2 separate regions of the Homo sapiens genome follow, and region 1 is linked to region 2. The links come from fine-mapping of genetic effects on gene expression. A gene starts in region 2. The other region holds a variant in brackets. All regions are shown on one strand. Distances are from middle to middle.

The links.
Region 1: its variant is fine-mapped to the expression of TCF7L1 in cerebellum (GTEx, PIP above 0.99). The same link has a PIP of 0.9 or more in cerebellar hemisphere.

The regions. Positions count from the first base shown.
Region 1 is chr2:85,302,756-85,307,137 of GRCh38, forward strand. It overlaps TCF7L1 (transcription factor 7 like 1), which reads left to right. Exons shown (of 12, transcript NM_031283.3): 6 at 1,140-1,242; 7 at 1,500-1,583; 8 at 2,505-2,648; 9 at 3,451-3,610; 10 at 3,697-3,804. Among named protein-coding and RNA genes, the nearest start is that of TGOLN2, 23 kb to the right of the region's middle. RefSeq lists an enhancer at 3,458-3,958. The variant C/A (reference allele first, on the strand shown) is at 1,701.
Region 2 is chr2:85,130,785-85,135,166 of GRCh38, forward strand. It overlaps TCF7L1 (transcription factor 7 like 1), which reads left to right and starts at 2,608. Exons shown (of 12, transcript NM_031283.3): 1 at 2,608-3,149; 2 at 3,232-3,295; 3 at 3,539-3,666. The coding sequence starts at 2,901. RefSeq lists a silencer at 2,208-2,277 and enhancers at 2,643-3,217, 3,793-4,367, 4,368-4,382.

The DNA of each region.
Region 1 (4,382 bases), 170 kb after region 2:
TAACTTTAGCCTTGTCATTTTTTTTTTCATCTGTGCCTCCCCTGTACCTTCTCCACCATAGGGTCACGATAAGGCCCACAGGAATTAAATGCAGTAAAGCACAGGGCCTGGCTCCATAGGCAGTGTGTGGGGTGGCTCTGCCCAAGTCTAGCCCAGCTGTGGGCCGTGCTTCCCTACACCAAGACATGTTTGCCCTAAACTGAACATTTTTAAATAGATTCATCAGTCTAAGCAGACACAGAAGTGCAACCGTAAAGCAGTGAGGCCAAACTGGCTTTTATTTATTTATTTATTTAAGACAGTCTTGCTGTGTCGCCCAAGCTGGAGTGCAGTAGTGTGATCTCAGCTCACTGCAGCCTTGACCTCCCGGGCTCAAGCAGTCCTCCTCCCTCAGCCTCCCGAGTTGCTGGGACCACAGGCGCATGCCACCATGCCCTTGCCCAGCTAATTTTTGTATTTTTAGTAGAGATGGGTTTCTGCCATGTTGCCCAGGCTGGTCTCAAACTCCTGGACTCAAGCAGTCAACTCACCTAAGTGCCGGGATTACCGGTGTGCCACCATGCCCAACCTGAACTGGCTTTTTTTTCTTTTTTTTTTTTTTAACTTGCCCACCAGACCTGTCCATTCCAGGGAGCCACTGTCTTTATAGCATTCACACAGAGTTGCCAGGGGAAGGCAAAGCATTTTTGGAGCCCCTCTTTGGAGAAATAACAGTCACTACAAGTTACAGATAATGAGGAAGACACATGTGGAGGAGGAATCCAAAGTTTATTTCTCCATGAATGAGGCGGGCTTTCTAGAGACTTGGTTCACCAGTGACTCTTGTCATTGGTCTTGTGGGTCCTGTCCCTCTCTTCCAGGACGCTGGCTTCTGTATCACAGCCAGCTGGAAGATACTCTTCACAGAGATAGAATCCGTGCAGCTAGAGAGGGGGTGCATTAGTCCTGCCTCCCCTGAATATGTCCTTGACTGACTGGTGAGAGCTGCTAGGGAGTTGACAGAGGGCAAGGACAATGACACAAGCACCTGCTAGGCTCCAGAGCACCAGGGACATAGGGCAGGATGCTCCCATTTGATGTTCGTTAAGGTGCTCTGGCAGGGCGAGGGAACAGTCTGACATATCTCTCTTTGGAAGCAGGAATCCCCCGGCCCCCTCACCCATCCGAGCTGTCACCGTATTACCCACTCTCTCCCGGAGCTGTCGGACAAATCCCCCACCCCCTCGGCTGGCTCGTCCCACAGTAAGGAACCCACAGCCTCTCTTCCCCCTGCTCCCTCCTTGCGCTGAGCTCTGCCTCTGTGCCCTGCGCGCCCTGCACAGTGGAGCCCCCTCAGAGGCAAGCCCAGGACTAGGCCTCCCTGCCCCCGCCCAGGCAGCGTGCTCCCAGCATTACCTTCCCGCTTCCTTCCCATATTTCTCATCCCTTCTTCCCAAGTGCCTCTCTTCCTCTGCCCTGAGCTTTCCCAATATGCTGACCAGATTTCCTCCCCCTCACAGGCAAGGCCAGCCCATGTACTCCCTTCCTCCCGGTGGCTTCCGGCACCCTTACCCCGCCCTCGCCATGAACGCCTCGATGTCCAGGTGAGTCCCGGGGCTGGGGCTGTCCGCATGTTTGTCTTAGCAACCACGCCATTTCTGACCACGAAACAGCTTTTTCTTGCCAGTTAATGAGCAGGCACAGGGCTCACCCTCCCCCCA[C/A]CTCTCTTTGATCAAGCATCTTCTCACGTCCCGCGCTCCCCACCCCCAGGTCAGAATGGAGACCACAGGATCACTGTCCCCATCTCTCCAACAGAAGGATTGCAAAGCCCTAGCACTCTGCCTCCTGCCATGGGCTCTGGCACTGAAGCATTTTGAGGACAGATGCTCCCCGACTTAGGATGGAGCCGCGTCCTGATAAACCCGTCGTACATTGAAAACACAACTTTCCCCTTAGAATATTTGCAACATATGATGGTTTTATCCAGACATAACCCCATCTAGGTCAAGGAGAGTACTGAATTAATATCGTTTTTGCACCATCGTAAAGTCAAAATATCCTAAGTCACGGACTGTCTGTATATCACACTGAAGCTAGGGACTGGGAGAAGATGAATTTTTCCTGAAATGATGTCAGGAGAGGAGACGGTGAAAGGGGATTTCTGTCTCAGGGACCAGCTCTACCTGACAGTGGAACCTCTGAGGACAGAGGAAAGCTGCCCACAGCCTAAGCCCTTCTTTTCCCCAGTATGCCCGGGCCTCTGACCCTCCTCCCCTTTTGTGTGTTTCATCCCACCTGCTTCCAGCACCAGATGGGCAGCCTGGGTGTTGGTGGGGAGAAGGAAGAGCCATTAAGCATCTCCCAAACCTGGTTTTCTAGAAGACGACAAATAGCCTTCTAGTCCTGAGACTCTGCCCCACGGACATGCCTGTGCCCTTAAGGCAGAGAGCCACCGTGTCCTCTGCTGGGTGGCAGGTATCCAGCCTGAACCCCTCTGTTGCCATTTGTTTCTATCCGGTGCACAGCCTGGTCTCCAGTCGGTTCTCTCCTCACATGGTGGCTCCTGCCCACCCTGGCCTGCCCACCTCAGGGATCCCCCACCCTGCCATCGTCTCCCCCATCGTCAAGCAGGAACCGGCACCCCCCAGCCTGAGCCCTGCAGTGAGCGTGTAAGTAAGCGGCAGCCTGGATTCAGGTGGGAGGGTGCAGGCTGTGGGGAGGGGTGGCCACACTCTGAGCAGCAAATGTCATGTACTCTTCTCTCTTGGTGTCACTCAGCAGGCATCACAGCCTCCCCAGCCAGGCCCTCCCTCTTCCTCGGGACTTACTCCCTCTGACCTTCTGGGTCCCTGTCCTTTCAGGGACATGGTGCATCTTCTCTCTTATTAAGGAAAGTTTTACTGTCAGGTCTCAGAGGCTGAAAGAGAACCTGAGAAAGCTTTTAACACCCCACCGTAAGATATATGAAAAGGTGAGGCCCAGAAAGGAGACAGTGTTTTCTTAAGGACTTGTGGTGGGCTGGTGGCCGAGCTGAGATGAGCACCAGGGTCCTTACCTTGCCCGTGTACCATAAAGATGGCAGGAAGCCAAAGTCAGTGCTCCCTGGAGATCCCAAGAGAACCCCCTCCCAACTTGGTTCTGCCCAGAGTGCCCCACACTGTGTCCTGTCACCGCCGCCAGCACCTGCCAGCTCCAGTGAGAGCTCATCTCAGCAACCCCACCATGCTCTGTTCCTCTGTCAGGAAATTGGAGAGTAGATTTTCAAAGAATCTGGCGTGGAGATCGTTCAAAGGTGGGAAACTACGGGAGGAAGGTACTCAGGTGTTGAGTGCAGCCATGGGGCCACTTGAATTAGCATCCAGGCAGCCCGCGCCCCTCCCCAGAGACAATCAGCGGTGTTTCAGTGACAGGTGGGGATTGATGAGTTGTGTGACACCTGACATGCTAACCTACAACCACGTGCCTTCCCAGGAAATCACCAGTCACCGTGAAAAAGGAGGAGGAAAAGAAGCCCCACGTGAAGAAGCCTCTGAATGCCTTCATGTTGTATATGAAGGAGATGAGGGCCAAGGTGGTGGCTGAGTGCACCCTGAAGGAAAGTGCAGCCATTAACCAGATCCTTGGAAGAAAGGTAAGACCTGCCCTCTCCCTCCAGGCCAGGGAGGCAGCGTCCCTGCATTGATGGCTCCGTGTGGTCTCTGACCCTCTCTCCCCCAGTGGCACAACCTGTCTCGAGAAGAACAGGCCAAGTACTACGAGCTGGCCCGGAAGGAGCGGCAGCTTCACTCGCAGCTCTACCCAACCTGGTCAGCCCGGGACAACTATGTAAGTGCACACTCTGGGCAGAGGACGCTCAGACCCCAGGAACAGCCTCTGCAAGAGGAGGAAGGGTGAAGGAAAGCAACTGCATTTATTTTTATTTATTTTATTTTCTTTTATTTTTTGAGACAGAGGCTCACCCTGTCACCCAGGCTGGAGTGCATGCAGTGGCGCGATCTCGGCTCACTGCAAGCTCCGCCTCCCCGGTTCACACCATTCTCCTGTCTCAGCCTCCCGAGTAGCTGGGACTACAGGCACCTGCCACCACACCCGGCTAATTTTTTGTATTTTTAGTAGAGACGGGGTTTCACTGTGTTAACCAGGATGGTCTCGAGCTCCTGACCTCGTGATCCGCCCACCTCGGCCTCCCAAAGCGCTGGGATTACAGGCGTGAGCCACCGCGCCCGGCCAGCGACTGCATTTATAGAGGACTCTTAAGATCAGGGAGAAGCCCATACTTCTCTAGAAATAAGGAAGGTGTTTTAATTCTCAGGAGGTCAACAAGTCCTGAGGACGGACTTCAGTTGATGCATTTCCCTTTGAACTGGACTCTGCCCTCGATTTCATAACACAGGGCACGGGGT
Region 2 (4,382 bases):
GATATGAAGTTAAGGATTTTGACATGGACAGGTTATCCAGGTGGTCCTTAAATGCTATCACAAGTATCACTTTTTTTTTTTTTTTTTTTTTTTTGAGACAGAGTCTCACTCTGTCGCCAAGGCCGGAGTGCAGTGGTGCCATCTCAGCTCACTGCAACCTCCTCCCTCCAAATTCAAGCGATTCTCCTGCCTCAGCCTCCCAAGTAGCGGGGATTACAGGCGCCTGCCACCACACCTGGCCAATTTTTTGTATTTTTGGTAGAGACAGGGTTTCACCATGTTGGCCAGGCTGGTCTGGAACTCCTGACCTCGTGATCCACCTGCCTTGGTTTCCCAAAGAGCTGGGATTACAGGCGTGAGCCACTGTGCCCGGCCACAAGTATGGTTTCTTACAAGAAGGGGGCAGAGGAAAATTTGTCACAGACAAAAAAAGGAGAAGGCAATGTGATTACAGACGCAAGGGTGGGAGTGATGTGGTCACAAGCCCCCAGAAGCTGCAAGAGACAAGGGTAGATTCTTTTCGGAGCCTCCAGAGGGAGCATGGCCCCGTCAACACCTCCATTTCTACTCAGTGAAACTGACAGTGGACTTCTGTCTTCCACAACTATGAGAGGATAAACTTCTGTTGTTTTAAGCCACCAAGTTTTCGTGATTTGTGACAGTAGCAGCAGAAAACTAGTACAATAGGTTTTTCATATATTTATGGACCATAAACATGAAAAATCGTCTGACTTTTAAATCTTATAAAAATAAAATAACACACAATAATACAAAGAGTATGATTCTATGTATGTACATCAGAATATCTGTAAATACGTTTACATATGTTCATAACTGCCTAGGAAAGTGTCTGGAAGGATATATACCAAACTAGTGACAGTGGTTAACCAGAGGCAGTTAACTGAAAGTGGTTAATTAGAAGGGTCCTGTGTCCTGAGGGGGAAAGAGGAACTTTTACTTGTTACTCGATACTGCTCAAGATACATCTGTTATTTGAAAACGCTTTATGAGACTGTACTCATGTATTGTGTAAAAAATTAGAAAAGGCATATCTGCTTGTTATAAAGTTCATAGAAACCAGAAAACTATCTCCTTTCACTTATCCTTTCCCAGAAATAGTCATTGATAATAATTTGCATCTTCTCAGATTTTTTTCTACGCAGAAATAAATGTGTATAATTTTTTTAAAAACAAAAATAAAATAGTGAGTGTCATATATAGTGTTTCATTTAAAGATGTTCCTCCAAAATCAATCTTGGTCCATGTGCCTGTGTGTGTGTGTGTGTGTGTGTGTGTGTGTGTGTGTGTGTGTGTGTGTATGGGTGGGGGGAGGGGCGGGGACACTGCATAGAACTGGCCAGCTGCATGGACTGTCACTGTAAAGAAAGATGAAGAATGCATGTCACCAAGCTCTCTGATGCTTTGAACCTAGCATATGTGGCTTTGCCCATATGTGCGGGCACCTCTGTAGAAACTCTTCTGCCAGTTGGGCTGAAAATAGTTTTACATAGTTCCATACTGCCTTCCAAGCTGTTTTCAAAGTTTATGCTCTAATAGTTCCCCACGGAGGATAACACAAGATATTCATTTTCCTCAAACTTTCCCGCACAGGTTGGAGAGAAACGACATCTTAATGTCATTGTAACAGGCATTTCTTTATTAAAAAAATTTTTTTTTTGGAGACAAGGTCTTGCTATGTTGCCCAGGCTGGTCTCAAACTCCTGGGCTCCAGCGATCCTCCTGCCTAGGCCTCGGGAGTAGATGGAACTCCAGGCGCGGGCCGTGGCGCTCGCACCACAGGCATTACTTAGGTATGAGGCTGGTTGAGCATTTTTCTCGTGTTCACTGGCTACTCACGCAGCTTTGTGAATGGCTTCGGAGATCACTGGACAGGCAATTTTCCCTCTCAATGAACCAAATCCAAATTCTTTTGGAACCCAAGACCGCGATTTTTCGATTTAGGACCTAGTCCCAAACAATGAAGAAAAGGTGATCTTCAAGATTTCAGCAGGGAAATCTGTATATCTGTACAAGGTTGAAAACCTGGGCCGGGGGTCGCGTTGGAACCCCACAGGAAAAAGGCGCGGAAAGCCGCCGGGCATTTTCCGGGGTTCCATAGATGTCCCCAGTGTCCTAGTCCGTGCATCAGCTCGCGCACTCGGAGGGACTCTAGGCAGGGGGAGGGCCCCGCGGCCAGTATGTGCGTCCGAGGCTTTCCCGCAGGGGGCAGTGCCGCCCGCCCGCGCGCCGATACGGTGGGAGGGGGTGGGAACCTGCGCGGAGTTCTGGAGGTTCTTTGGGAGAAAGTTAGGGGATGCGGAGGGGTGGGCGCAAGACTTCCAGGACTCCAGGGAGGCCGTGGGGAGGGCCGCCGAGGGTGCAGTGTGAGGCGCAGGAGGGGGTTGGGGGCGGTGCACGTTGCAGGGAGACGCAGCCCCTGGAAGATGCGAGTGTGAACGTGTGAGTGTGAGTGCGTGTGTATGTGTGTGTGTGCGCGCGCACCGCAGCTCTCCGGGTTCCGCGAGGCGCGCGGGTGTCAGCTTGCAGCCGGGGCTCCTCCCTCCGGCCCCCCTGCCCAGCCCGGCGGTCCCTCCTCCCTCCCTCCCCGCTCGCCCCTCCCCGGCGGGCCAGGGGCTGGGACGCCCCGGCGGAGCAGGCGGCGGCGGTGGCGAGTTGGGGAGCCCTAGGCTCGGCGCTGCCGGAGGGGCCCGAGCCGAGCCGCCTGCGCCCCGGCCGGGCAGCGCCGGGCCCGCTTCCCGCGGGGCCACGCCCTGTCAAACTTTGTTGCGGCGGCTAGCGCAGCGGGCCCGCAAGCGGGCGGGAGGGGCGCCGGGCCGGGCCGGGCAGGGCGCGGGCGGCTAGGGGCTCCGAGAGCGGCGGCCCCGGCCCGCGGCCCCACCATGCCCCAGCTCGGCGGCGGGGGCGGCGGCGGCGGCGGCGGCAGCGGGGGAGGCGGCGGCTCCAGCGCCGGGGCGGCCGGCGGAGGGGACGACCTCGGGGCGAACGACGAGCTGATCCCCTTCCAGGACGAGGGGGGCGAGGAGCAGGAGCCGAGCAGCGATAGCGCCTCGGCGCAGCGGGACCTAGACGAGGTCAAGTCGTCCCTGGTCAACGAGTCGGAGAACCAGAGCAGCAGCTCGGACTCGGAGGTAAGGAAGCACCGCGGCCACCCCCGGGGGATCCCGGCCCTGCGTCCGCTCACCCGCTCTTGCCTTTGTGTCTCCTCCGCAGGCGGAGAGGCGCCCGCAGCCCGTCCGGGACACTTTCCAGAAGCCGCGGGACTATTTCGCCGAAGGTATGTGCCCGCTGGGACAGCCCCCCACTCTCGATTCCCGCTGCGCTCCGCTGCTCAGCCCGGGCGGCCCACCGTCCCCCTTGCTTGGGTGGACGCACCCTTGCCCTCCGCCTTTATTGGCGGCAGCCCCCGTGGGGCGCGCGTGGGGGGCGCTGGGGTCCCCAGCTCCCGCCTCGAGCCCCCTGCCGCGGCGCTGTCAGTCCCGGGGGCCTGGGCCTCACCTCGCCTTGGTCTTGTTCGCAGTGAGAAGGCCTCAGGACAGCGCGTTCTTTAAAGGACCCCCGTACCCTGGGTACCCCTTCCTGATGATCCCGGACCTGAGCAGCCCGTACCTCTCCAACGGACCCCTGTCTCCCGGAGGAGCGCGCACCGTGAGTGCCCGTCGGGCGCGCCGGGGAGGGTGGGAGGCCGCGGCCCGCAGGATGCGCCCCCGGGCTTGGCCATGGAGTGGGGGATGGGGCCTTCTGCGCCGATCCCAAGCAGAACTTGTTTGCGGAGTTGAACTACTCTCTGGCGGCCGAGCGCGAGGCTGCGCTGGCCAGTGCCTGGATGAAAGTAAAGTTACTTTAACTTTTCCCCTCTTGCGGGTTGAGGTTTTGGAGTCCACCTCTGGGATCTTCCTTGGCCTCCAGAATTCTTCGCCTGCACCGAAGGAAACTTGGATTTGTGCCCGCTTTGGGGGGGTCTCGCTTTCCTTCTTGGAAATCGGTCAGCTTTCTCTGGCAGTGGGGCAAGGGGCCTAGGGAGCTGGGTTGGCGACGTTGTCCTCCGACTCCGGGTTCACTGGGCGGCTGCAGGCTGGTTCCTAAGAAACCCAGTTTTCGTGGCGGGTTATTCACAGCCCCCGTTCCCACCCCCAGCCCTCGCACCGGGGCCTCAGCTTTTCTGCGGAGCTAGCTCCGAATTTTAAACTCGCGTAGATGATTTCGAGGCGACCCAAGGCATTCTTCAAGTTGAGGAACTTGGCTTTTTCCCCCTTTTGTCGCCTGCTTTTCTCATTTAAAGCGAGCGCTGCGACACTTTAAACCTGTTAATGGGCGCGTATTGTGTGCTGCCCGCTGGCATTTAGAGCGGTGATTAAGCAAAT